Homo sapiens: one gene and its partner. The protein of the gene in region 1 purifies or fractionates together with the protein of each later gene. This does not show direct contact. Each region holds a gene or a part of one and is shown on either strand. Other genes may lie near its edges.

Region 1 (3,751 bases):
CCCTGTAGGTCCCTGCTACTGCCTTCAACACCTCCATAAAGTTGTCCTGGTCCCAGGGCCCCGTAATGTTCCAACCACCAATCTATGTAGAGACCATAAGTGGAATGATTAGTGCAGGAGCTCCCAAAGCGTTCCTGGGCCATCTCCTCTCTCAAGGCCTCTCCTGCTCCCCTGCCCTCAACCGGCTCAGTGGCCCTACCTTCTCAATGAGGTCTCTCAGTGGCTGGGCTCCCAGCTCCTCAATGCGCTCCACCTGTAGGCAAGATAGGTAGAAGCGCTGTGTCTTCTGCTCAGCTTCACTGCTGGAGTTGAAGGTGGTGTTTTCTGTGGGGCAGAACACAGGATCCAGGTGGCAATTACGTTAACTGCTGAGGGGGAGTCCCTGGCCCTTGCTCGGTTTCTCTCCTTGCCTTGTCAATGAGCAGTCCTGCTAACGCAGACCCAGGAAGAGTGTCTGAAACAGCAAGCCGTGGCTTCCTCTCCCTGTCCATGGAGACCCAAGGATATCTAAGCAGTACAGGCTCCCTGGTGTCTACCACACCACGACAGTGCTCCAAACAGAGTGCAGAGAAGCGGCCCTCCATTGTACCCAGAGTTCTGCCCCCATCAAACCCATCTGCACTTCTCAATAGTCCCCTGCTCTCTGCCTCCCCACCCTCTGGAGTGTTCACAGAACCATCCACTTCCTCATTCATGGACACTGCCTATTTGCTAAGTGCCAGGCCCTGTGCTGGGCACAAGGCACATAGGTGGCCCAAGGCCTCCCTAACAGCCCCACTCACCAAGCAGGTGCTTCAGTATGGCCTGGTTTTGGTCCCAGAGGCTGTTGAAGGTGTTCCAGCGAGAACGCCCATCGGGCAGGGGGTTCCTCCGAATCCAGCCCCCACAGGAGAACTGGTAAAAGTCCTCACAGGGGCTCACCCCTCGGTCCAGGGACTCCAGGATTTTTCCAGCCACTCGAATGCAGGCCTCTGTAAGGCAGGTGCTGTGGGATGGGTCTGTGGTAGGGAACATGGCCGGAGGGTAGGAGACTGTCAGTCTGTCTGTCTGGAAGAGGCAAACTCTGCAAGGGCCATGACAGCAGGAAGGTTGGGAAGAGAAAGCAAAGCCGGGGGCTTTTCTGCAGGGAAGGCTTGGTTCCCACAAGTGAAAATCTTAGAGGCCCTTAGGCCTCCAGAACCCCTAGTTATGAATACTGACGAAGAGTGTGGGCCCACCTACCTCTGTGGTACTGGACCCCTAGGGCCACAAGGCAGCCCAGAAGCAGTGCAGCCAGCAGTAGAGAGGCACCTGCTAAGACCAGCTCCAGCTGCGTGCGTGAGCCTAACAGCTGTCTTGTCCCCTTCTGGAATCCCACCTGGGGAACACAGGGGGACAGAGAGTGACTGAGATGCAGGGCAGGGATCCAAGATTACCAGAGGGTGAAGCCACAGGCAGTTTTCAGAGCCACAGGGTTAACTCTGGGCCCGGGGGCAATGAGGCCAGCCAGTGAGTTGAGCCTTGAGTCTGTTTTGTGCAACGTCACGGCTTAGCATCGCCTCACCATAGTCCTAGAGCAGAGGCCAGAGATGGAGCGGAGGTGGGGGCAGGTGACCCTCCAGAACAGCCCAGAGCTCCTGGGTGTGCCAGGCGTCATGCCAGGGCTGGGGCCTGGTGAGAAAGGGGAAGCCCCCTTGCCCACCTCCATGGCGTCCGGGGAGGCCCCGCCCTCTACGGGGGTCTCGGGTGCGTCTTCATCCCGAAGCGTGGCCCGTTTGTACTCCACCATCTGCCAGACAGTCGGGGTTGCCAACCGAGGTCAGGCAGAGAGGGCTATTTGCCCACGACCCTGCCCCAGTGCTCCCTGCCTCGCGGACCCCTCCGCCCTGCTAAGAGGGCCCTTCCCTTCCCACCTGCCCTGCTCTCGGGCCCGGGGTCTCTCTATCACCCCTCCACCAGGCCCGGGAGGCAGCCTTACCTCCGCGAGCCGGGCACCGCCTGCCCCTCCGCGGCCGACCCCTCTGCCTCGTCCCCCTCCACCCAGTCCCCTCCCGTGGAGCCCGGGGCCCCCACTCACGTTGCTGCCAGCTCCCAGCTCCTGCAGCGCGACGTTCATGGTGGAGTCGGGCCAGGCGGTGATTCAGGGCTCCCGGCAGCTGGCCCGCTCCCGGGCCGCGGCCCCGGTCCCCTGCCCGGCCCCGCCGTCACCAGCCATCACGGCCGCCGCGCAGCACCCCCGCTCGGCCGCGGCCGCCCCCCCCCCCGCCCGAGTCCACCGCCCCACGCGGAGCCCCGCCCGGGGTGGGGGGAGGGTGGGGGAGAGGGAGGAGCGCGCCGAGGCTCTCCGCAGGCTCCAGCTGCCCTCCAGCAACACCGGAGACCCCTCCACGCTTCATGGTCCGCCCCCCATCTCAGCAGCACCCTCCTTCAAGCCACCCATAATTTACTTTCCTAGGAAAAGTAATGAAATTCAACCAGGCCCAGACGTTGCTAATACTCCTTGGCCTACTTCCCCCAAATTTCAGGCTCTCTCCATCCCCTTTAAGCACTTTAGAGAAATTATGCCCTCCTGAGGAACGTCTTCCCCCAGTAGTCCACACAGCCCCTCTTCAGCCGGCAAATACATAGCACACAGGCAGTTCACTCACATTCAGGGTGTGCACGTGGTACCTACCTATGTGCAGAGAACGCATAGACGCCAAGGCGCCAAGGACACGGGCAGGCACGACGCCCAGCACACAGTCCACACACACACGAGATGCCCACAGAATGTACACACACTGCATACTCACACACAGTGTACACACGCACAACACACCCAGAGCCAACACACACGCACACTGTGTTTCTGTATGTACACACACCAAGTGCAGGGGGAGCATACACTCCACACACACACAGCCTACACTGACTCTACTCTTCCATGGCGCTTCAAGACCACACTTCTACTCTCCAAGATAACTGCTGTCATCAGATCGTCTCATAAAGGGAGGGTTACAGATGGTGACAAATTGGCAGGGAAAAAAACAGCCATGCACAGATATTTAAAGAAAAGACGTGCTAACACTTCTAACTTGGGGAAAGCAAACCGTTTTATTTGGGAGATTTACAAGGAGAAAAAAAACTAACACCAAGCAATATTTAACTGAAAAGCAATAGTGTGGCACCCATGCATCTGCCATCTGCCTTCCATATTGTCATTCCTTAATCAGGCCTGGTGTTATTGCAGTCTGTTGCACTGAAAAGTGCCTAGTGTTTTACAATTCAAAAAAAAAAAAAAAAGGAAAAGAGAGTGCGCTTCATCTTCCTCTCCCCATCCTCCACCCCCACTGAGAAAGTACAAGAATTTGACCTGAGAAGGCTTGAGTGGGTAGCAAACACATAATCCATTTCTTTCTTTCTCTCTTTCTTTCTTTCTCTCTCTCTCTTTCTTTCTCTCTCTCTCTTCTTTCCTTTCTTTCTTTCTTTTCTTTCCTTTCTCTCTTTCTTTCTTTCTTTCTTTCTTTCTTTCTTTCTTTCTTTCTTTCTTTCTTTCTTTCTTTCTTTCTTTCATCTTTCTCTCAAGAAGGGTGTCAGCCGGGTGCAGTGGCTCACGCCTGTAATTCCAGCACTTTGGGAGGCCGAGGCGGGTGGATCACGAGGTCAGGAGTTCGAGACCAGCCTGGCCAACATGGTGAAACCCCGTCTCTACCAAAAATACAAAAATTAACCAGGCATGGTGGCGGGCGCCTATAATCCCAGCTACTTGGGAGGCTGAGATGAGAATCGCTTG
Region 2 (3,651 bases), on another chromosome or scaffold:
GATGTTGAGCATTTTTTCATGTGTGTTAGCCATTTGTATATCTTCTTTTGAGAATTGTCCATTCATGTCTTTAGCTTACTTTTTGATGGGATTGTTGGTTTTTTTCTTACTCATTTGAGTTCGTTGTACTTTCTGGATATTAATCCTTTGTCAGATGTATAGATTATGAAGATTTTCTCCCACTCTGTGGGTTGTCTGTTTACTCTGCTGACTGTTCCTTTTGCCATGCAAAAGCTCTTTAGTTTAATGAGGTCCCAGCTATTTATCTTTGTTTTTATTGCTTTTGCTTTTGCTTTTGGGTTCTTGGTCATGAGATCCTTGCCTAAGCCAGTGTCTAAAAGGGTTTTTCCAATGTTATCTTCTAGAATTTTTACAGTATCTGGTCTTAGATTTAAGTCCTTAATCCATCTTGAGTTGATTTTTGTATAAGGTGAGAGAAGAGGACCCAGTTTCATTCTCCTACATGAGGCTAGCCAATTATCCCAGCACCATTTGTTGAAAAGGGTGTCCTTTCCCCCACTCTGTGTTTTTGTTTGCTTTGTCAAAGATCAGTTGGCTGTAAGTATTTGGGTTTATTTCCAAATTATCTATTCTGTTCCACTGGTCTATGTGCCAATTTTCATACCAGTACCACGCTGTTTTGGTGACTATGGCTTTATAGTATAATTTGAAATCAGGTAGTATGATGCCTCCAGATTTGTTCTTTTTGCTTAGTCTTGCTTTTTCTATGAGGCCATGCGGGCTCTTTTTTGGTTCCACATGAATTTTAGAATTGTTTTCTCTAATTCTGTGAAGAATAATCATGGTATTCTGTGGGGATTATGTTGAATTTGTAGATTGCTTTTGGCAGTATGGTCATTTTCACAATATTGATTCTACCCATCCATGATTCTACCCAGCATGGGATGTGTTTCCATTTGTTTGTGTCACTTATGGTTTCTTTCAACAGTGTTTTGTAGTTTTCCTTGTAGAGGTCTTTTGACTCCTTTGTTAGGTATATTCCTAAGTATTTTATATTTTTGCAGCTATTGTAAAGGGGTTGAGTTCTTGATTTGATTCTCTGTTTGGTCACTGTTAGTGTATAGAAGAGCTACTGATTTTTGTACATTAATTTTCTGTCCAGAAACTTCACTGAATTCTTTTATCAGTTCTAGGAGCTTTCTGGAGAAGTCCTTAGGGTTTTCAAGGTAAACAATCATGTCATCAACAAACAATGACAGTTTGACTTCCTCTTTACCAATTTGGATGCCCTTGTTTTCTTTCTCTTGTCTGATTGCTCTGGCTAGGATTTCTAATACTATGTTGAAGAGGAGTGGTGAGAGTGGGCATCCTTATCTTGTTTCCATTCTCAGAGGGAATGCTTTCAACTTTTCCCCACTCAATATTATGTTGGCTGTGGGTGTGTCATAGATGGCTTTTATTACATTAAGGTATGTGCCTTGTATGCCAATTTTGCTGAGAGTTTTAATCATAAAGGAATGTTGGATTTTGTTGAATGGTTTTCAGCATCTACTGAGATGATCGTGTGATTTTTGTTTTTAATTCTGTTTATGTGGTATATCACATTTATTGACTTGCGTATGTTAAACCATCCCTGCATTCCTGGTTTGAAACCCACTTGATCATGGTGGATTATCTTTTTGATATGTTGTTGGATTCAGCTAGTGAGTATTTTGTTAAGGATTTTAACATCTATGTTCATCAAGGATATCAGTCTGTAGTGTTCTCTTTTGGTTATGTCATTTGCTGGTTTTGTTATTAGGGTGATGCTTCATAGAATGAATTAGGGAGGTTTCCTTCTTTCTCTATCTCCTTATATCTTTCTTCAGATGTCCTTCCATTCTGAGAGTCTAAGGTTCTATTTTTTTTGTTTGTTTGATTGTTTGTTTGAGACAGGGTCTCATGCTGTCACCCAAACTGGACTGCAGTGGTGCCATCACTGCTCACTGCAGCCTCAGCCTCCTGGGCTCAAGCAGTCCTCCCACCTCCGCCTCCCAAGTAGCTGTGCAAAATATCTGATTTCATTGGAATCCTTAGTGAACATTATCAGAGGCTATCTTGTAGTTGCATTTTACATAGGGCACAAAACTGATTATTATTAAATGACAATTCCATTGTTTATAACTAGTGGTTGTTATATAGAAACAAATTCCAGGTTGGACTATTTGTGATCTTCTATGTTTTTCTAACTATACCTTAAAAATGCTAGAGATGCTGGTGAGGTTGTAGAGAAAAAGGGAAACTTTTACACTGTTGGTGGGAGTGTGAATTAGTTCAACCATTGTGGAAGGTAGTGTGGTGATTCCTCAAAGACCTAGAGGCAGAAATACCATTTGACCCAGCAATCTCATTACCGGGTATATACCCAAAGGAATATAATTCATTCTATTATAAAGATACATGCCTGCATATGTTCATTGCAGCACTATTCACAATAGGAAAGTCACAGAATCAACCTAACCGCCCACCAATGATAGACTGGATAAAGAAAATGTGGTACATATACACCATGGAATACTATGCAGCCATAAAAAGGACAGAGATCATTTTATTTGCAGGCACATAGATGGAGTTGGAAGCCATTCTCTACAGCAAACTAATGCAGGAACAGAAAACCAAACACTGCATGTTCTCACTTGTAAGTGGGAGCTGATTGATGAGAACACATGGACACTGCCAGGGAACAACACATGCTGGGCACCTGTTGGGGGAGGGAGAGGATCAGGAAGAACAGCTAATGGATGCTGGGCTTCATACCTGGGCGATGGGATGATCTGTGCAGCAAACCACCATGGCACATGTTTACCCATGTAACAAACCTGCACATCCTGCACATGTACCTCTGAACTTAAACGTTGGGGAAAAAAGAAATATATGTTACTGTTAGATTTATAGAGTAATATATATTGCTACTTAAACTTTTTGTTTGACGTAATCATATAATCCACTGATTATCTGAAATAAATTCCTGTGCTCTTTTTTGTTGTCTTAAAACAATGCTAGGGTTGTAATATCTACATTAATGACAAGAATATGCAAAAAAATCATATACAAGTGTTTTAGCTTAATACGCTTAAACTGGGAAATGTAAAGGCCTTATAGGCATTGTGAGGGTCCTTCCTCTGTGGACAGTCACAGACATTAGCAGACATGTTCTTCCGTTTTCCTTTGTTGCTCTGTGTAAGCATCGGTGAGCAGTGGCTGGTCCTAAGACTCTTTCTTGTTTTCCTCCACAGACAGCGTGGAAGATGAACTGGAGATGGCCACCGTCAGGCATCGGCCTGAAGCCCTTGAGCTTCTGGAAGCCCAGAGCAAATTTACCAAGAAAGAGCTTCAGATCCTTTACAGAGGATTTAAGAATGTAAGAACTTTCTTTTTGACTTTACCTTCACACAATTCCCAGAGGAGCATTGAGAAATGAGAGGAAAAGGGGGAAAATATCCCATTCTATGAGAGCCCCATCATATGTATATTTCATACTGATCCTTCCCAGATAGGAATATAATCAGTATCTGTGGACTTTGATTCTCTGTGGCACACCCATGCTGGCATACTGTGATTGCCCATTAAACAAAGAGTTTCTGAGAAAGTTTTATTCAATTCAGTTCTTGGTTGAAATATTTTCTCTTCATCAACTATAATGACATAATT

What was found. Proteins that work in one complex are often made in the same cells at the same time.
Region 2: the proteins of ECE2 (region 1) and KCNIP4 purify together in Homo sapiens (affinity purification with mass spectrometry; 2 studies listed by BioGRID and IntAct, with this or other methods). This does not show direct contact.

The regions. Positions count from the first base shown.
Region 1 is NC_000003.12:184,274,498-184,278,248, reverse strand, and holds the start of ECE2 (endothelin-converting enzyme 2), read right to left. Parts: upstream 2,228-3,751; 5' UTR 2,096-2,227; coding exon 2,057-2,095; intron 1,769-2,056; coding exon 1,682-1,768; coding exon of another isoform or gene 1,544-1,681; intron 1,358-1,543; coding exon 1,222-1,357; intron 999-1,221; coding exon 783-998; intron 325-782; coding exon 200-324; intron 83-199; coding exon 1-82. Other genes in the region: EEF1AKMT4-ECE2 readthrough transcript protein, read right to left, coding at 1-82, 200-324, 783-998, 1,222-1,357. UniProt on the Homo sapiens protein: Converts big endothelin-1 to endothelin-1. Also involved in the processing of various neuroendocrine peptides, including neurotensin, angiotensin I, substance P, proenkephalin-derived peptides, and prodynorphin-derived peptides.
Region 2 is NC_000004.12:20,850,253-20,853,903, reverse strand, and holds part of KCNIP4 (Kv channel-interacting protein 4), read left to right. Parts: intron 1-3,236; coding exon 3,237-3,361; intron 3,362-3,651.